Regions from separate parts of the Homo sapiens genome. Here region 2 is reported to be linked to region 1. Evidence: microRNA targets listed by miRTarBase, many of them from high-throughput screens and not tested one by one. Region 1 holds a microRNA gene; the other region holds the end of a gene's coding sequence.

Region 1 (4,401 bases):
AGTTTCTTTGCTTGTAACTTAGAGACTTCAGTAAGGTACAAAGTGAAAATCCATGTATAGTACTTGGCGCATAGTAAGTACTCTATAAGTGATAGCTTTTACCGTTAATTCATATTCTCATATTAACGTGGTTACATAACATAATTTAGAGGGAATGTTTGATACATTACTCTTCAGCCTATTTCCATAGCGCTTTCAGCAAATGGAAGCCTACATGTTTTGGAATTCTTCATTTTATAATAAAACCGAAAAGTTCATCATTTTAAGGGAGACTAACCTAAGTCTAAGAAAATTTGTAAGATTATTATTCATAGATTTTGAAATAAGGAGGGCATCTTATATATTCCAAATATTTGAAAATGCTGTAGAGGTTGAACAAAACATTTTTTGCTTTTCCTCTGAGTACACGAGGTCTAAGTGGTTGAAGAGAGAGAATTGGTATAGGCTATCAGATTAGGATATATAAAAATGGGTATTGGTTTAATACAGTAAGTTGGTTCCAGGCATGGTAGTCTTTGCTATGTATTAAAGCTATCAATTTCTCACAGAAAATTGAACTAGAAACATTTTTATTTCTGGTATCATTTTAAATCATAACTCCTTTGGGAAGCAAATAGGTTAATAAGAAGCAGGTCATAAAGATGTTTGTCCTGACTTGGGTTCAACTTTTGGCTCTGCCATGTAGTAGGTTTAAGACTTTGGACAGGTTACTTAACACTCCTGATCTTTGTTTTCTTCATTTGTGAAAAGGCAGTATAATGATACACCTTGAAGGGCTGTTAGGATTAAATAAGAGATTTATGAAGTAGCTAGCACAATGCATCATACGCAATAGGTGATTCACAAATATTAATTCTACTCCAAATTCCATTTCTAAATCATCTAAAGGGAAGTACTAGAAACACCATGTATTTGCTCCAGTGAATTTGCATCCCTCATTGTAGGTTCATGGGGCATTCATTCATAGTGATAGCATGATAGGCTCTCTCTGACTTCTCAAATATGCACAAGTAGTCTAGATATTTCAGTGACAATGGGGTTGCCTCTGTTTGAATTTCAGACACTGACATTCTGGGGAGAGCACCTAAGTGAGTAATAGTTTCTAAGAGAAGGCTCTAATGACTTGAAGTAATGTTGGGAATAGTTGCATATTGCATGTTTATCGTATCAGGACAGTGATGCCACTGACAGAAAGAATAATCAAACACAGTTTGAGAGTGTAACGTTTCTTTAATAGCAAATGACGTGGAAACTCAGCAGACAACACTGCCTGCTCAGTGCTGCTGATGACTCTCCACCTCCATCCCTCTACTGATCCAGGAACCAGCTTAGCAGGCACAAGTAATTGGAGCAAACCCAGCACACTCTTGAGTGTTTGCTGTGAGACTGAATGAATTCAAAGACAGTTTCCTAGGTGTAGCATCTTTCAGCAGGCCCCAGGCTTTAAGCCTGCCTAGAGTCCATTCCTTTTTTCTTTTTTTATTTTTTTTTGAGACATGGTCTCACTCTGTGGCCCACACTGGAGTGCTGTTGTGCAATCATGGCTCACCACAGCCTCAACCTCCCAGGCTCAGGTGATCCTCTGCCTCAGCCTCCCAAGTAGCTGGGACTACAGGTGTGTGCCGCCACCCCTGGCTAATTTTTTTGTATTTTTTTAGAGACAAGGTTTTGCCATGTTGCCCAGGCTGATCTCGAACTCCTGGGCTGAAGCGATCCACCCACTTGGGCCTCCCAAAGTGCTGGATTATAGGCATGAGCCACCGCGCCTGGCTGGAGTCCATTCCTTTACTGTTTTGTGAGTTAAAAGGAGTGCCTGGAACACAATGGTATGTGGGCAGTAAGCTAGATTAGCCACAAATAGGAGAAAGAGCAGAATCTGGGTTATTTTAAGTTTTATTCACAATCAACAAGTTGGATCTTCTTACATTGTGTCTACAGGGTACATACTCTGTACTTTTATTGAGATTGGGACATGTTTAAATAGATAAGTGTCAATCCATTAAGTTAGAAAAGAAGGTTCTTGCTAATATGTTTATTTCTTTATCTCTGCCTTCCAAAACGTGCACATCAATATGCAAACACACATGCTACGTTTTTCTAAGTTGTTAACTTGACGTTCTCTTTTCCCCTGTGTATGAGTAGCTTTTGATAGGAAAAAAATGCTCACTTCTGAGCCTTCCAAACCATTTTGAGCTGTCCAAATTGCTAAGTAAATTTTTGGGAACTGTTCAGCATGGAGCAATAATCAACAAATGTCAGTAGCAATCTTTACTGAGCCACCTATTATCAGGTATTTACGACTCTAGTGGTAATAAAAGAGATCTGGGCAGGCTTTTCCTCATACTGAATAATTGAACCAAATTGGCTAGGACGGGAACAGATTAGTGGAAGAAGCACTAGAATAGGGATAGGAGACTTGTATTCTGTCACTAACTAGGTTTGAGACCTCTTTGTGTTGATTTCCAATAGGAAGTAAATTTTTTTCCTGCCATTTTATAGGGTTATTGTTAAGATCAAGTGAGATAAGTGGCATTTATGTTAAAGAATTTTGAAAAGTTAAAGTGCTGTGTGAATACAGAGCATTCTTCTTTGTTGCCTGTCACCCTGTTTTTTCATTTCAGTTAGTGTGTGGAACGAGCAATCTTTAATCTCTTTGGGAGGTTGATTGCTTGCCCCTCCCCACCCCATATATAGAGGAAAGTAGGCCTCTCTATAGGATAATCAGAGGAAAAACTCCTGGAATGGTTTGTGTTTGCCTCCGTTTCCTGTTTTCCTTTGTCATTCTCATTAAAGATTTTTTTATGATTTAAGGTTTTCTTATAATGGGAGCATGGAAAGCTGGCAGTGAAATAATCCTAGTAGGAACACAGAGCCTAAAAGCCTGAACATCCTGTATCTTTTATGGTTCATTAAGAACAGAGTATGTTTCAACCAGTCTCTCAGTTATCCAAACTCAAATTTGAGCTTTTTACTAAAAAACTTTATTATGGAAATTTCCATTATATACAAATAGAATAATATAATGAAGTGCCATGTATCCAGCATCCAGCCTTAAACATTACCAACTCATAGCTAGTCTTGTTTCATTATCACTGCATGCCCTTCTGGGTCACCTTGAAACAAATTTCGTATATCAAAATTTCATCCATAAATATTTTGTTATATACCTCCGAAAAGTAAGGTATCTTTCAAAATATATGAACACAATACCTTTATTCCTTTATCAGTGTCAAGTATCAAATTAATGTTCAAATTACTCTTGCATATTTCACAATTTTTTTTCATACTGGCTTTTTCTAATCAGGGTTCATACATTGCATCCAATTGATATGTCTCTTAAGTCTGTTTTAATTTATAGGTTTTCCTTTCCTGTTCCCCTTTTTTCTTGTGATATATTTATCTTATAGAGTTTCCCATAGTCTTTATTTTGCTGATTGCATCCCTGTGGTGTTGTTTACCGTGTCTCTGTCTCATTTATTTTTGTAAACAGGCACTGTAGAGGCTTGATTAGACACGAGTTTGGTTTTTTATTGTTGTTTTGGAAGGAATACTTCATAGGTAGCTAACATACTCCTGCCAGGAGCACATAATATTAAGTTGTTACTCTTTTTATAAATGTTAGCAGCCATTGATGATTTCCTAGACCAATAGTTTTGTTAGGGGTTTGCAAAATGGTGATACTCTAATTCTGTCACCCTTTCTTCATTTCTTAGCTGGAATATTTGGAAACTTCTCATTGACTATTGGATTACTTTCATATACAGTTTATATAAGAAAGATAGGATAAGTGCTTGCATGTTCCCCCGTTATTAGTTTTTAGAATAATTAGTTGATTCCCAAGCATCCATCAAAGGTGACCAGTGAGGGTTTTTGTTTTTTTTTTGGTTTAAGTTTCATTGTGAACTCAAGGATTTTTTTTTTTTTTAACATATTTGATGTTTTAAATCTATCACAGTGATTATTGAGGCTCAAAATATTCCATCTTTGGTAGTGGGAGCCTCTACATGGTAGCTCCTGAGTGTTTTGTTTTTGACACAAGGTCTTGCTCTGTCACCCAGGCTGGAGTGCAGTGGAGCAATCATAGCTCACTGTAGCCTGAAGCTCCTAAGCTCAAACAATCCCCCTACCTCAGCCTCCAAAGTAGGTTCTACAGGTACATGCCATCATGCCTGGCTAATTTTAAAGAACTTTTTTTTTGTAGAGGCAAGATCTCACTATGTTGCCCAGGCTGGTCTTGAACTCTTGGCCTGAAGCTATCCTCCTGCCTTGGCTTCCCAAAGCACTGGGATTACAGGCATGAGCCACTGCGCCTGGCCCTCTTTAGTGTTTTTGACACCACCCTAGTGGTGTTTAACAGTTTCTTTTCTTTCTGGTGTGATTCAAGCTCGCTTCATAAAATTC
Region 2 (4,401 bases), not on the chromosome of region 1:
AGCCTCTCAAGCCCAATTCACCAAGTCAGCAGTGAATATATTTTTTTTTTTTTGAAAAGGAGTCACACTTTGTCGCCCAAGCTGGAGTACAGTGGCACGGTGTGGGCTCACTGCAGCCTCCGCCTCCCAGGTTCAAGCGATTCTCCTGCCTCAGTCTCCCAGGTAGTTGGGATTACAGGGGCCCACCACCATAGCCAGCTAATTTTTGTATTTTCAATGGAAATGGGGTTTCACCATGTTGGCCAGGCTGGTCTCGAAGTCCTGACCTCAGGTGATCTGCCCGCCTTGGCCTCCCAGAGTGCTGGGATTACAGCGAGTATTTTTCACTCCCTTCTCCACATATTCGGTATCTAATTTCATTGCGAAATAAAAAGTGCCCCTCCAAACAACTCAAAAGCTCATCCCTAAGTTTCTAGATATTCGTTCCAACAAACTCCTGGGGGAACCACCCTCATGGATTTGGGGAAGGGCTTTTTACTCACTTGCTGCCATGTCAGCTTCAGCCTTTCATACTGCTCCTTGCCATCTGCTGAGCAATCCGAACAAGTAAACCTAAAAAAATTATCACCCTTAAGGTAACTGAGCTGTTCCCTCAGCTGACCTAGGAGAAAAACAAAAAGTCACATCATGGGTTTATCTAGAGCAGCGGTAACCTAAAGGTTTAATCCGTTTATCACCCAGATTTTCCTTTCCCATGTTGTCTTCTTTTCTTCAGCCAACCCACAATTGCAAAATGGGGAAAAGGAAGGGAATTAGAAAGATTTCTATTCTTCTAACACCAAGTATACGCCCACTAAGATCTGTAGGATCCAGTAACTTTTAGGAGAAAGGTACTGGAAAAGCAGGTATTGTTGCTGGATTTCCCAATTGTCACATTCCTGACTCCCAGAGGCAGGTCTCTTCACACATTCTTTCAAAAAATATGAGCTCCCTCTGCATACCAGGCACTGGGCTAGGAACTGGGAATACAAAGTCCAAGACAGATAATGGTGCCTGATCTCACAGGTTTGCACTTCCCTGAGGGCTGCATAGAAAACAGGTGATCACAACAACACAGTGGTTCTCCATGCTCACAGTGCATTGGAATCACCCAAGTTGTTCTTGGTTTTCTAAATATGCTTGATTCTAGCCCAGATAAAATGCATCAATTTCTGAAGCAGAGCCTAGGAGTTACATTTCTTAGTCCCTCAGGTGATGCTGATGCTCTGTGACACATAAGGAATGGAATGTGCTGTGTACCACAGGGCAGTGTGAGGGTAAATAAAAGGAGGCCCAACCTATATTAGGGGGAGGCTTAGGATTAGAAATTGGCCAGGTGAAAAGGGGTCTCTTTGTGTATAGGGAGAATGGAGGCTGTGGAGATGCATATTCCAGAAGAAAAAAACTGTGCAAAGCCCTAAGGATAAGAATTGTTTGTGAAGAATAAGTTCACCCTAACTGCAAAGTTGTGTGGGAATCAAAGAAACTACAGTTAGCAGGGTCCTGACCACAAAGGGTAGCTTAAAATTTGTCCTCAACAGGACAAAGGGAAAGCCACTGAGAATTCAGGCAGAACCTGAAATCAATAACAGAGACCGCTCAGAAGCAAAAACCAGCTAACTAGTAAATTCTGCATTTCCTGTGAAAATGTTACTATTAATTTGTTAACAGTGACTAAATTTGAAGTTGAACCCATTTTAAGAAAAACATTTCCACATGCCAGAAAATGACCCTCTTCACAGTTATATATGTATTTCTCTGACTTGGTTACAAATTATATTACACAAAGGCATTCCTCAAGTACCTATATCTTTACTAGTCTCTTGCCTAATGGGAAAATCCTGTTTCGGTATAAACCATATGATGGCTGGCAAGCCATACTCCTCAGGTGCCAGGAAGCTGGCCATTGAAAATCTCAAGATCAGGGCCGAGCACAGTAGCACATGCCTGTAATCCCAGCACTTTGGGAGGCCGAGGCGGATGGATCACCTGAGGTTGGGAGTTTGAGACCAGCCTGACCAACATGGAGAAGAAACCTCATCTCTACTAAAAATACAAAATTGGCCGGGCATGGTGGCGCATGCCTGTAATCCCAGCTACTCGGGAGGCCGAGGCAGGAGAATCACTTGAACCTGGGAGACGGAGGTTGCAGTGAGCCAAGATCATGCCATTGCACTCCAGCCTGGGCAATAAGAGGAAAACTCCGTCTCAAAAAAAAAAAATAAAATAAAAAAAAAAATTAGCCAGGTGTGCTGGCAAACACTATAATCCCAGCTACTTGGGAGGCTGAGGCAGGAGAATCGCTTGAACCCAGGAGCCGAGATCATGCCATTGCACTCTAGCCTGGGCAACAAAAGCAAAACTCCATCTCAAAAAAAAAAAAGAAAGAAAAGAAAATCTCAAGATTGAGGCAATCAGGGAGTGTGTATGAGGTATCTCTTGCCAGCAGAAAAAAAGGAAAATGGAAAAAAAGACTGGTCCTAGAAAAAGGGCAAAAAACACCTTCAATCTGCTAATTCTAACCTCTTTTCAGTATACAATAGCAGGAGTTCTCCACGTAAGTTAAATATTAACAAAGTAATTTTTATAAACTTGAACATGAATTCAACACTGGGACTGGAATTTGGCCCTAAATCTCTGTGACCTTGTTAGAAAAATATGGCTAATTCTTTAAGTAACACAGGATTTCCAATTTTCTCAATTTTATTGAGTTACCACCAAAAGTGTTAATTTAACAATGTGATAGAGGTTGACAGTACGTTTCATTAGTACAAACATGCCTATGTTTTATATAAATTTATAGCTGATCAACTAGAGAATAAATATAATTATCCTTTTATTTAGGTCTCTTTTACATTCACGTTTCTTTCACAGGTTGGAAAAACAAACCTTCACACAGGAATTGACAAATCAAAGGAATTGAGAAGCTCCTTACTGGCTGGTATCCATTTTTGGCACTTGTCACAGAAGTAGGACAGCTGCTCCTCCATCCAAGACACGTCTCCTTCATCACTGTTGAGGGAATCCCCACTCTGGTCGTGCGATAAGTCCACTGATGCCTGATCCTCGGATTCGACGATCAGGAGCGTCTCTCCCTCCACTTCACCTTCCTCCAGTCCTTCTGAGGTCGATGTTCTCGTGGCTTCGTCATCATGCCGACTGATCAGACTACTCAGGTGGATGCTACTATCCATCCCTTCCTTCTCACAAGCTCGGCAGTGCTTCTCAGTAACAACCCTAAGCACTGGACAGTGACCCTAATGGGGCTTCTACCAGGATCACCCAGACAGACTCTTCCAAAAAGTGTCTGCCCACACTCCTTTATTCAGATATAAGGGACCCTGAAAGCAGTAACTTATATGACCCACTGTCCTTTATTTGATCAAGTTTAAAAGGACAGTGACCAAAAAAAAAGATGAAGATACTACTAAGCTACTCTCCATCAACACACACACACAAACTCGTGTTGTCTGTCCAACAGATATTTCACATTCAAGTCATGATTTTTGAGATCCTTTTGCCAATAACATCTTCTCTCTTTCTGCTTCAAGTTGCTCAGTCAAAATAATCTGTTCTCCCAAAAGACGAATGTTTTCTTTTTTCCGAATTTGCCTCTCAATGTCTCTGATAACTCCGTCACGAAGCCTCTAAAAACGTAAGAAACAGATTTCAGTAACATCCCGAACAGGTGGTCCCCATCCTTGTGCCATTCAAATCCAAATAACAGTGTTACCAAAATATACTTAAAACTTTCAGATTCCAAATACCCAGTTACTATTTTAATTTTCTGTACAAATGTAAAATGTAATAAACGATCAAATAAATTTGGTAGTGTGCTAAATGTTATTACTGAAATGATTTCTTATCATATTTTAAGAAATTCCTGAACATTTAGTACAGAAAATTTAATGGGAAATAACAGAAAAAAAAAACTGGCACTATGTTAAATTTTTTTTTATTTATTTTTTGAGACAAGAGTCTCGCTCTGTCGCCCAGGCTGGAGTGCAGTGGCTGCACTCCGCAGCTCACCGCAACCTCCACCTCCTGGGTTCAAGTGATTCTCCGGCCTCAGCCTCCCGAGTAGCTGAGACTACAGGCGTGCATCACCATGCCCAGCTAATTTTTGTATTTTTAGTAGAGACGGGGTTTCACCACGTCAGCCAAGCTGGTCTCGAACTCCTGATCTCAAGTAATCCACCTGCCTCAGCCTCCCAAAGTGCCGGATTACAGGCGTGAGCCACTGCACCCGGCCAATGTTAAATTTTTAAAGTTTAATTGATATGTAATGCTTTAAAAACTTGGCGAGTTACTACAGTAACACTCTAAACTACTCTTCTGTTAGCACTTATCCTAGCTGAACAATAAACACCAACAGAAAAAATGCAGATTACTAAAATCTCAACTTGGCTTCTAGCATGTAAA

Evidence for each region. Region 1 holds the annotated microRNA hsa-miR-4288 (UUGUCUGCUGAGUUUCC, at 1,248-1,264, opposite strand). A microRNA usually pairs through its seed, bases 2 to 8, with sites in the 3' UTR of a target mRNA and lowers its output. Matches are read on the target gene's strand: a 7mer-m8 pairs with bases 2 to 8, a 7mer-A1 pairs with bases 2 to 7 and ends in A, and an 8mer does both.
Region 2: the mRNA of PET117 is a reported target of hsa-miR-4288. Seed matches in the 3' UTR shown: 7mer-A1 at 3,446-3,452 and 7mer-m8 at 3,284-3,290.

Annotation. Positions count from the first base shown.
Region 1 is chr8:28,503,879-28,508,279 of GRCh38, forward strand. It overlaps MIR4288 (microRNA 4288), which reads right to left and starts at 1,304; the gene lies at 1,238-1,304. The region is part of intron 3 of FZD3 (frizzled class receptor 3); the gene reads left to right.
Region 2 is chr20:18,141,433-18,145,833 of GRCh38, reverse strand. PET117 (PET117 cytochrome c oxidase chaperone) reads right to left here. Exons shown (of 2, transcript NM_001164811.2): 2 at 2,665-3,626. The coding sequence ends at 3,477. It overlaps KAT14 (lysine acetyltransferase 14), which reads right to left. Exons shown (of 11, transcript NM_001392073.1): 2 at 2,915-3,626; 3 at 483-601. The coding sequence starts at 3,173. Among named protein-coding and RNA genes, the nearest start is that of PET117, 5.8 kb to the right of the region's middle.